Linked DNA regions of Homo sapiens: region 2 is linked to region 1. Evidence: fine-mapped expression QTL. A gene starts in region 1. The other region holds a variant in brackets. All regions are shown on one strand. Distances are from middle to middle.

Region 1 (5,000 bases):
CCAGGAGCTGAATCATTCAGGCACTACTGGGACACCCAGATTCCTATCAGGACAAGAGTCTCCCTCAAGCCCCCTCAGAGGACAGTGACATCCGGCATAGAAACCCACAGCTCCCACCTACCAATCCCCCTCTTAGAGCAGACACGACGGCTTTCCCTCAGAATTAACACTGAACCCAGATGGGGGCCGAGCTCGCTCTCCTCACTCCACCCCCACAGGCTCAACCCTATTAGGACCCTCAACCTTGTTTCCAACCCACAAGTAGTTGGAAAACTCCAAAAGCAATCGGCCCGGGGCTGTTCTGGACCTGCTGAACCCTCTGGGGCACCAGGCTCGGTTCCTAGTGCACAGAAGGGCGTCACTAACTATGTGATGCGGACCGCAGGGCACCGGGGTTAAGGCTGAATCTGCCAGGTCCTTTTCCAGGGGCGCAGAACTTCCCTTGTGGCTGGGTCGGCAAAACCGAGGCCCACATCCCAGATAGAGATCAAATCGCCCTCCCCCACCGGGGGACTTCCGAAATTACCTCTCTGGATCTGGAAGCTTAATTAGCTGATTGGCCTCATTAACGTTCGAACTTGAGTTTCAAACGAAAAAGAGGTCACTCAACTATCCAATTTACAACCTCGAATTTCCACCCGAAAACCACTTTATTTTCGGATGGCCTCTGAGGACGCCCAGGCCCCTGCCAGCAGCTGCCAGCCCCCGAGAGCCTTACGTACTTTCGCCTGACCCCCCCACCACCCACCCCTCACCTGCCTGGCTCGAGCGCCTTCTCAGTTCCAGGCGCCCCGAGCCCCTTTAAAAGATCGGCTGCGAAAACCCACGGTCACCTGCACCACCCTTTCTCCCTCTGGGTGCTCCAGCCCCACGGAAAGGCAAGCCTCGCCCACGCGCCCACCCACCTCGAGCAGGGTGTCCGCACGCAGACCCGCCTGGAGGGCGCCGCGCTGCACCCCCACGCCAAGCCCCAGAACCCTGGCGGCGAGGTCCACCCCAGCCCCCGCATCCCCCCGAACCCGGGCGGCGAGGCCCGCTGCGGTGGTCGCACCTGCTGGCTCAGTCCGGCGGCTCCAGCCCAAGTGACGAGTGCGCTGTCGGCGTCTCTGGGAGCGGTCCCCGCGCCTGGCGCCCGGGGCCGGGGCCACCCGGTGGAGGCGCCTGGGCCGCGGGCTGGGCGGGCGGAGCTGCCCGGCCGCCGGGGAGGAGGGATGCCCGGGCGAAAGTTGCCAGGGAAACTTGATCAACTCGAGCGCGCCGGTGCCAGCTTCCTGCATAATTCACGGACGGTGGCGGCCGGGCTGCGCCCGCCGGGTCTCCCTATCCCAGCTGGTGAGCACGGCGGGCCGGGGTCGGGCACCCGGCTGTGGCTCAGCGCGACCCCCGGGACCTGGGCGCCCGACCCGCCACCCCCGGGCCCGCACCAGGCGCGCCGGCCCCGGCCTCTCCGCGACAGCTGCTGCTGCCGCCGCGCGCGCCTGGATGGGAGCTCTGCGTGCAGGGCCAGGGTGACCGCAGCGGGGTCTCGGGGGACCTGGCGGCCACGGTTCGGGTCTCCGCCCCCGCGCGCCACCTGGCGGCCCCGCGCCGGCTCCTCCGCTGGGCTCGCTGGCCCGGGTCCTAGGGCTGGCGGGCGGTGACCCGGGGCAAGGAGACCCCGGGAGAGCGGGGGAGGTCGCGCCACACGCGCTGTTCCAGAGGAAGGGGCAGGACGCGCCAGAGACTACGTGGTCCATGCGCGCAGGAGATAAAGCGGGGGCTCCTTCCTGCGCTCTGCCCCCACGCCGCTTCCAAAGCTTTCGACACCGGCCCCTGCCCGGGAAGAAAGGCATGCAGGGGGAAGGGCTCTCTACGGAAAATCGACCCCCACCTGGACACGCGGCTCACTCCCCCCAGCGCCCACCTCTCCAGCCTCTCTGGGTCCAGGACTGCGCTTACCCGGTAGTTGGTGCTCCCGGAATCGAGATGCCCCCAAAATGCCGTCAGTGAGCAGGATCGGGTGCCCAAGGGCCACCTCCCGTCCTCCCCGGCCCGCGCCCTGCGTCCCCGGCCGCCGCCTCACCTGGCTCGGCGAGTCGGGGGCGGGTCCGAGCCCCCCGGGAGCGCCAGCGTCCGCGCACACCTGGATCGGCCGCGGGAACCCGAGCGGCGCCGCGCCCAGCCCCGCCGGAGCTCAGGAGCCGCCGCCGCGGCTCAGGTGCAGGGGGTGGGGAAGGACCCGGCCCCGCCCGGCGCGGGAGCTGGCTCCGGCGAGGGTGGGGGAGGGGCCCTCTCGCCGCCGAAAGGACGCGTGCGGCCCAGGACCCGCGGGCGACCCGACCTGGACCCCCACCCCCGCCCACGCCGCGGACCTCAGTCCCCCGCCCCGACCCCGCTCCCGCCCGCGGCTGCGGCTCGGGCGTGCGCGTGGGGTCTGTTGTGGCAACCCCGGGAGACCGCGGGGCGCCCTGGCCGCCTCTGCCCCGCCCCGGGCTGCGTGGCTCACGGACCTCCCCCTCCCTGGCCAAAGCCGGCGGACGAGAAAGTCCCTGATTTTTGTAAAGTCCGGTTCGGTCTGCACGGTTATCCCGAACGCAGCTGGCTCCCGCCACAGAGTATTTATAATAATAGGATTTGGAAATAGAGGCTGCCTGCACATCAAAACGTTTGCAGAGCAAACGAAAACTTTGTACCCGGGTGATACGCCGGCGTCTGCTGCCCAGGCCACCAGTTCTGGGGCGCCTTCCGCCCAGGGGTGCACAACGGTATCTCCGCCAGCTGCCCTCCAAGCCAAGAAAAGCCAGGGGGTGGGGTGGGGGGAGCAAAAGCCAACGGCTCGGGTGAATCCCAGAGGCCAAAGGCACCCTCCGGAGACTCCAGGAATCCTGTTATTATCCAGGACTCCGGATTGCTAGGTTTGCGGAAGCCCAAAGGGGCGGGTCCTGAGCTTGGAGCTGTGGCCGCCGTGTGAGCCATCGGCTGATAGATTTTCTCAAGGCCTTAATCATTCACTGGGAGTCTCCCCCAGTACGAGCTGCGTGTTTCTGAGTAAGCTCTTGAGGTCTCTGTGTTCTGAGTTTTCCAGTATTCTGGAAGGTGTGGGTGGGGATCAGAGTCCAAGCTGTGGAGTAGAACTGTCTCCAGAACCCTGGAGCCCGGCATTATGCAAACCCCTAACTGTGCCCCCTACATAGAGTGAGTGTGTGTGTGTGTGTGTGTGTAAGTCAGTCTATCTTACAGGACATGCCTGAGAGGTTTGCATGGGCTGGTGACTTCAACATACCAAAGGCAAAGTTAAATATTTGCTCTAGATACTTTTTTTTTTCAGCTTGCATAATTGTCCCACATTTCAAAGAAGTCTTTAAAAGCACTTAGGTTAAAAAAAAAAAAGTTGTGTTTGGGGCCTGAATATTTCAGGACACACATGGAATAAATATTGTAACTCCTTGAGGGCAGCTGCCTTATGTAAATGTCTTTCTCGTCGCTGCTTCCTTAAGCATACACTTGATAAAATATTTGTTGAATGAATAAAGGAGTCAATCAATCAAAAAATAATAATCCCCAAAACAGGAAGAAGGACGCCCTGACAGGATCCTGCAGGCATCCTTTGTTTGGCATGGAAGCTGGGGTGCCTGGGAGAGGTGTGAGCAGGACAATCGGATGTTCTTTGGGTTGGCCGGTGGCAGATGCAAGACCTGGGTTGCAGGGAGTGGGGGTGGGGGCTCTACCTTTCCATAACAGTCCATCAGTACCCTCCCCACCAAAGAAGGCAAGTCATCTGAATAAAGTGGTGTATTTACCCTGCAAACCCAGCTCAAAGACCTATCCTCAGGATATTTCCCTCCTCTCACCAGATTCCCACCCCTGGAACACCCCTTCCTAGGTTTCTAGAACCACTGCTGCAGATAGACCAGGCAGCTGGTCACAGTTCAATTGTGAACATTTTTCGGCTATCTCCATGCAAGGTTTAAGACCGATGCCATTATGCTATCTCCAAGAAATACTTCCCTAGGGACGCAGGCCTCTGCCAGCCTTCCACCCAAGTGGACACCCCTTGGGCCATCCCCCTCCAGTCTTTCTGATCTGTTAGCCAACAAGAGCGCTGTGTGAGAGCCCCGACATTCGGCATTTTAAGGACAGCATCCTGCTTACGCCCCAGTTTCTTTGTGTCTGTTTAGAGATATCCAGTTCAGCCTTGTGCTCCGATGAAGCAACATCCTTCAAGTCTGTAAAAATCTCTTATGATCCCAAAACAAAGAAAATCAAGGTTACAGGTGATGGATACACTAATTTCCCTAATTTGATCATTACACATTGCATACGTGTATCAACATCTCACACTGGACCCATAAATACGTACAATTATGTGTCAACTAAAAGTATTGACAGCCAAAAAAAAAGGCTCTTATGAAAAGGTTCAGGGTCAGATAATGCTGCCACAGTGCCTTTATTCACATCTTAACGCTCTGAGCGGGCATCTCAGGTTGAGGGGAACACCTACCCCCCGCCGCTCATTTGAAGTAGGACCTCTTTTGGCATTCTAATTTCTGGGGGGCCCATAGCCACACACACCACCAAGTGCCTTGTTTTAGGTTCAGTTTAGGAAAAGAAGACATGACCCTCCTGGCTTCCTGGTTTCAGAACCCTCCGGTTTTGTTTCTGGAAGCTGCCTTCCAGGATTCACCAGGTTTTGCAGAAAGGAGTAAGCTTTTCCATCTGGTCATCTTGTCTTTTTTTCTTGTCCAACCTGAACCATGAAACCATCAGCCACATCTGTGGAGTACACGCTGTGTGGTCCTGAGCACGCTAGGACTTTCTGGGAAGAGTAACTGTTTTATAGAGAACTGGAAACTGGGACACCATACCATCAGGGATGTGAGATATAGCCACCTTTTTGGTCCTGGGGAAAACATTATAAATATTTTGTGGCTTAGATTAACCCAGATGCTCACTGCCTTCAGCAGCAGTCCCTTTCTCCCAGAGAAGCTCCTGGGTTTGGGGCTTAATGTATTAATAGTTGG
Region 2 (5,512 bases), 430 kb before region 1:
TGGCCAGTCGCCTCCCTGCCCAGGACAGTCGGCCTCCTCCTACCTGGCCATCTCTGCTTCCCCTGCTTCTTAGCCCACACAGGCCTCTGCCACCGGGACAATAACACCTGATACCCTGTGCTCCCTGCCCCATGGCAGCCAGCGGGGTCTTTCTACACTGTCCACAATAAGGATGAAGATGAAGACGACCCTAAGAGTGGCCGACGTTTCTGCAGAACCGAAGACTGTCTATGAGCAGCTGTGGATGTCAGTGCAGGCCAGGTGCTGAAAGCCACTTAATCCACCCAGCACACTCGGGAGGGGGTGAAAGTCATCAGCCCCACTTTACACAGGAGAAAACAGAGGCACAGAACCAGCAAGTGACTTGCCCAAGGTCAGCTGGCGGGTGGGTAGAGCCAGGTAGCCCTGGCGGTCAGCACTGCTTGGGGGATGTTCAGCACCGGTTGCTCAGCATGGGCTGATGGGCAGCTGCTCCACCCTTCAGACAGGAGGAAGTGGGGAGGGCTTTCCCCTCCACGGCAGGGAGAGCACGCTGTCACTTATGCTTCTGATGGTAACCAGAAAGAGCTCTGGGTCACCCAGGGCCCCCAGAGGCTGGGAGCTAGCAGCCTCCCTGAAAGTGGCCCGTTAGTGCCACATGGCCAGGGCCCGTTGCCCTAGGAAAGAGCTGGTTTTTCAGGAATAGTAAGGCAGGCGCACAAGGCATGGGGCTGAGCTTTGAGCTTCGAGGATGAACAAGGAGCAGAGGGGCTCAGCCACCTCCTGGAGCCTCCAAAAGGCCCTGGGTTGGGTTGCACAGTCCTGTGATCCACCATCCAGCATCACCAGGGCTGGCCGAATGAGCGTTTCCCTATCTCAATAAAGGCCACTTCCACAATGGGGCCTCGGTCCACAGCCAGGAAGCAGACAGCTCTAGCCAGGCCCCCCTCCCCTGGCTGTACCTTGTTTGCAGGACATTCAGACCAAGTGTGCTCAGGGCACCAGCCTTTGCACCCCGGCTATGTCACCTGAATGTCCCTGCGCCCAGCATGGGCCTGGGTAACTGCTCCATAAGCAAACAATGTGCAGTGAACTGGCTCCCTTCTGTGCCTCTCACCGTGCAAAGACACTTCTGCCCCCCGAATGCATATGGCCCTATGCAGGGACAGAACACAACAGTGGCACCTGCATGCCCCACCCTCATCCCAGGGGACCTCAAAAAGATGCCTGGAGAAGCATGCCTGCCTCCAACTCTCCATCCCACCTGGTCGCCTCGAAGGCAAATGCTCACCACTGCTGTCCCATAGGAGGGGACGTCAGTGCCACTGGCAGGTCCTAGTTAGGACACGGGTCTTAAGGGAAGGACCTCTCAGCTCATCAGTGCCCATCCAGAGGGTTCCTCCTACAGCACAGCTATTGCTACCATTGAGGATGCTGAATCCTGGACAGATGGATATGGACAGGGAGGCTGTGAAGGGGTGGGGAAAGGGAAGATGGAACAAGGCCAAGAAAGAAGGGACTGACGGGTCAGGGCCACCAGGTAAGAGCAGTGCCCCTCGACTTGGGACAGGCAGTGGCCCACAGTTAGGGGGACTGGCTGTCCTGATTTTAGCACTGAAAGTCCCACATCACAGGCAAACCTGAATGGTTGGTCACTCTACCAACGGTTCTAGGTGACAAAGGGGACAGTCTTGGCCGAGCTCTGGGTCTTGGGTTGGACATGGACCTGGGCTCTAAGAACCAATGTGGAATGCGCACTGGCTGGACAAGGTGCTGTGGGAGGCGGCCACCCTGAACGCCTTCAGCTGATCTTGAGAAAAACCTGAAGTTGGTCTTTCTGGGACCCTTTTTTGAGATGGAGTCTCGCTCTGTCACTCAGGCCGGAGTGCAGTGGTGCCATCTCAGCTCACTGCAACCTCCGCCTCCCAGGTTAGAGCGATTCTCCTGTCTCAGTCTCCTGAGTAGCTGGGATTACAGGCATGCGCCACCACATTCAACTAATTTTTGTATTTTTAGTAGAGATGGGGTTTCACCATGTTAGCCAGGCTGGTCTCAAACTCCTGACCTCAAGTGATCTGCCTGCCTTGGTCTCCCAAAGTGCTAGGATTACAGGTGTGAGCTACCGCACCTGGTCCCTTGTTTTATAATTGACAAAGATTAGGCAGATTGGGTTTTACCTGCCCAAGGTTATGCAGCTATACAATGGTACAGTACAGAAGCGTGTATGCAGGAGGCCAGGCAATGAGCATTTGAGGCAGGCTGGCCACCATGATGACCACACACACACACATACACAATGATTCTCTCTCTAACATGCACGCGCATGTCTACACACCAGCATGCACACAGGCAAATGCACACAGACCAAAAAAACACAAAAATGCATGCACATACATACACAGGCATACACAAACACATACACACATGCACACACACATGTGCATTCTGTCCCCCGTTCCTCACACATGAACAGGGAAACAGGGATGGTCAGACCGCAGCTGCAATACACCCGGCTGCTTCTCTCTTTCCCGAGCCACATCTAGCACATCTAGTCTGCAGCCAGCTCAAGTCCCTGGCCACGCTGCCTTTGCTGTCTTATTAGATTTTGTACTGGGTGAAGGGGACACACTCTTTTTAAAACTGTAGTCAGAAGTCTTGCTAAGTGTGTGAAGTGGAATTGGCTGCCTCGGGGGAGCCCTTTAATTTAGCTTCCCATTGTTCTCAGCACCTGGGACTCCTCCCTTGGGGTCCTTCCAAGCAGGAATCTAGACCAGA[A/G]GCAGCTGGACCTCCTTGTTTGGCTCTGGTGGGAAGCGTCTGTGGGCTAAAGGCCAAAGCGTTGAGAGGACGTGGGGTCTGCCAGCTCTAAGAGGATCAGGCCTCGACCCTGTCTAGGGGCCGGGAGAAGTGGGCTCTCACCGGCATGTTCTCCCCACAAACTCCTTGGCTGTGGCCCCAAAGCCTGGGCTGCTGGTCATAGTCAGGGTGATCAGCCCCTCCTGGGACCACGTGAGGCACTGACCCTCCTCAAACTCACACGGAGCTTGCCAGGTGGAGCCCCTGGGGGCAGGGGTGGTGGCGGTCTTCCTCCCTGACATCCCTGACCTTAGCTGGCAACAGAGCATGACCCAGGCCTGCAAGACTCCCCGCAGCCAGGCTCTGGACCCCGAGTGGCTTTGAGGCCAGGGAGGAAACAGGAAGCATGTAGGATGGGGGCGAGGGTCAGGGGCCTCAGCACTGAATGCCGACATCACCAAAAACATGGCAACGGCCGGGGAAGCACGGGTCCAAGGCCCAAATCTGAGGGAGTGCCAAGTCACCAGATGCCAGAGCCAGGGGCCTGTGCCGAGTCCTGCCCTTGCTACGTTCTGGCTGTGTGACCTCGGGCTCCTCATAGAGGCGTCTGCAGCAAAGAAGCCAGCACAGTGAACTCCTGGAGCAGCTGTACCCATGAGAATGTGGAGGCATCGGTGGCAACGGCCACTGCCCCTGCAGGTGCAGCTTTCGTGGCTGGAACCGACACCAACCCTAGCACCTGGGGCCCCGACAATGAGCTGATCCCTGGGAAGTCTCTTCCTCGACTGAAAATTCTGGGAGGTGGCGTGAGAAAGGCAGAGACCTGCTTGGGAGTTGGAGCTCTGAGTGCAAATCCAGCTCCCCTGGCTGCTTGGGAGGCAGGAGGGTGGGGAGAGACCCAGACCTGGAGTTGGACGCCGAATGGGGTGCTGGGCAGGAGACCACAGGCAGTTCCCAAAGTCTGCCCTATGCTGCCCATGTCCTTGTCTAGGAAATGGAACGAGGCACAGGCTCCTGTCACCTGGGGCTGCTTCAGAGACTGACAGACATGCCCTCTGTGCTCCTGCCATGCTGGACCCAGGCCTGCAAGTGCTCCCCTGAGGGTTAGCGCTACCTGAGACCATCCCTGCAGCTGCTGAGACAGCCAGACGCCAGAGCCCTGAGCCGGCCTCTCCGGCCCCCAGCATTCTCCTCTGGGCTGGGTTTCTCCCTGCCACCCACGTGTGCACCCTCAATTTGGATAAGGTGTGTTTGCAGGCTTGCAAACATGGCCCTCGGGAGGGCACACACCCCTGACCAGGCTTGCAGCCCTGCCTCTCTCCCTCTTGACATTTCACTTAGGACCAAGAAGTCAGTACACAAGGAAAGGAAACAGGACCCGAGAGGCCAGCAGTATCCCCAGTCCACCCCAGGATGCTCAGCTCAGCCTGCACACCTGCCCCGAGCTTTCATCGTGTGCCTCCATGAGGCTCGGGAAGGTGACCCCAGCCCCCCAAGGGGAGACCGTGCCAGCAGGGACAGTGAGCAAAACTCAGGCATGAAAGTTTCCTCAACATCTGGGTTGGAATAAAATGGGCTTCCTGCTCAACTTCTGGGCCACCCCAAGTTGGAGGAGCTGGGACCCCCAGCACGTGGCGGTCTTCCTTCCCTTGGCGTCTGCCACTCCTTACCCGACATGCCAGAGAGGCTGCGGCCTCTTGCCGTCCTCGCCTGCGCCGCCCAGCCTGTTGAGCGATGGGGACCGGCTGCGGGGCCCGGGCACGTAGCTCCCAATGGTCTTCGCGGCCCCCTCGGGCTTGCTGGGCATCTGCTGCAGCAGCTGGGGTGACAGGCTGCGGTGCGAGGTGGCCGTGGAGCAGACGGCCCAGTCGGGAGCGCTGGCATTGAGGTTGTTGTCACTGTTGGAGCGCAGCAGGACCCGGGGGGCGGCCAGCGTGTTGGGGGGCCGCCGCCGGCGGTTGGAGTACGCCGGGGCCTCTCGGAAGGGCACTGGGGAGAAGGACATGGAGAGAGGCCGGTGAGTGCATCTGTGTCGTGGTCAGCTGGGTGGGGACCCTAGGGAGGTGCAGGCCTGCGTGCGTCCAAGCCCCCATGCGAGCCCAGCAGAGGGGAGCTGTGAGTTCTGGGCCGAGACCCCAGCTGGACTCCACCAGGCCCAGAACTCACCCCTGACATGGAAGCAGAGAGACAGGCTGGGGACGGAGAACATCTCCACGGCACGGAGCTCAAGCCAGTACTTCGCATGGAAGGGACGTGGGGTCTGAGCTTCCATCTGGCCTGGGAGACGTCCGGCTGGCTTGGGCATGTGTAAGGACGGGCCACCCCATCACACAAAGCAGAGAGGGCACTGAGCTGCCTGCCGCAAGATGCCTCCTCCCCACAACCTAAGTTGAGCCTCTGGGGTGGGCTGAACTGTGTCCCCCAAGTTCGTGTGTTGACGTCCTAAACCCCAGTTTTCAAAATGTGCCAATATTTGCAGGTAAGGTCTTTACAGAGATCATCTGGGTGGAGGGCCATTAGTGGGGGCCCTGATCCCATAGGATTGGGGTCCTTATAAGAAGAGGCGATGAGGACACAGACACACACACAGGGATGACCCCGTGAGGACACAGGGAGAAGGTGGCACCTGCAAGCCATCAAGAGAGGCCTCAGGAGGAACCAGCCCTGCGATGCCCTGATCTCAGACTTGTAGTCCCCAGGACTGGGAGGTGTAAATATCTGGTTGTTTTGTTGTTGTTGT

Which allele goes with the higher level. Alleles are on the strand shown, and positions count from the first base shown. SD is a standard deviation of normalised expression in the study named.
As copies of A replace G in region 2, the expression in visceral fat of the gene that starts at base 2,215 in region 1 goes down (small effect, 0.34 SD a copy in GTEx).

What was found. PIP is the estimated chance that this variant, and not a neighbour inherited with it, causes the effect.
Region 2: its variant is fine-mapped to the expression of SHANK2 in visceral fat (GTEx, PIP 0.92).

Annotation. Positions count from the first base shown.
Region 1 is chr11:71,250,363-71,255,362 of GRCh38, forward strand. It overlaps SHANK2 (SH3 and multiple ankyrin repeat domains 2), which reads right to left and starts at 2,215. Exons shown (of 26, transcript NM_012309.5): 1 at 2,063-2,215.
Region 2 is chr11:70,815,922-70,821,433 of GRCh38, forward strand. SHANK2 (SH3 and multiple ankyrin repeat domains 2) reads right to left here. Exons shown (of 26, transcript NM_012309.5): 12 at 4,443-4,761. Among named protein-coding and RNA genes, the nearest start is that of SHANK2-AS3, 44 kb to the right of the region's middle. The variant A/G (reference allele first, on the strand shown) is at 2,755.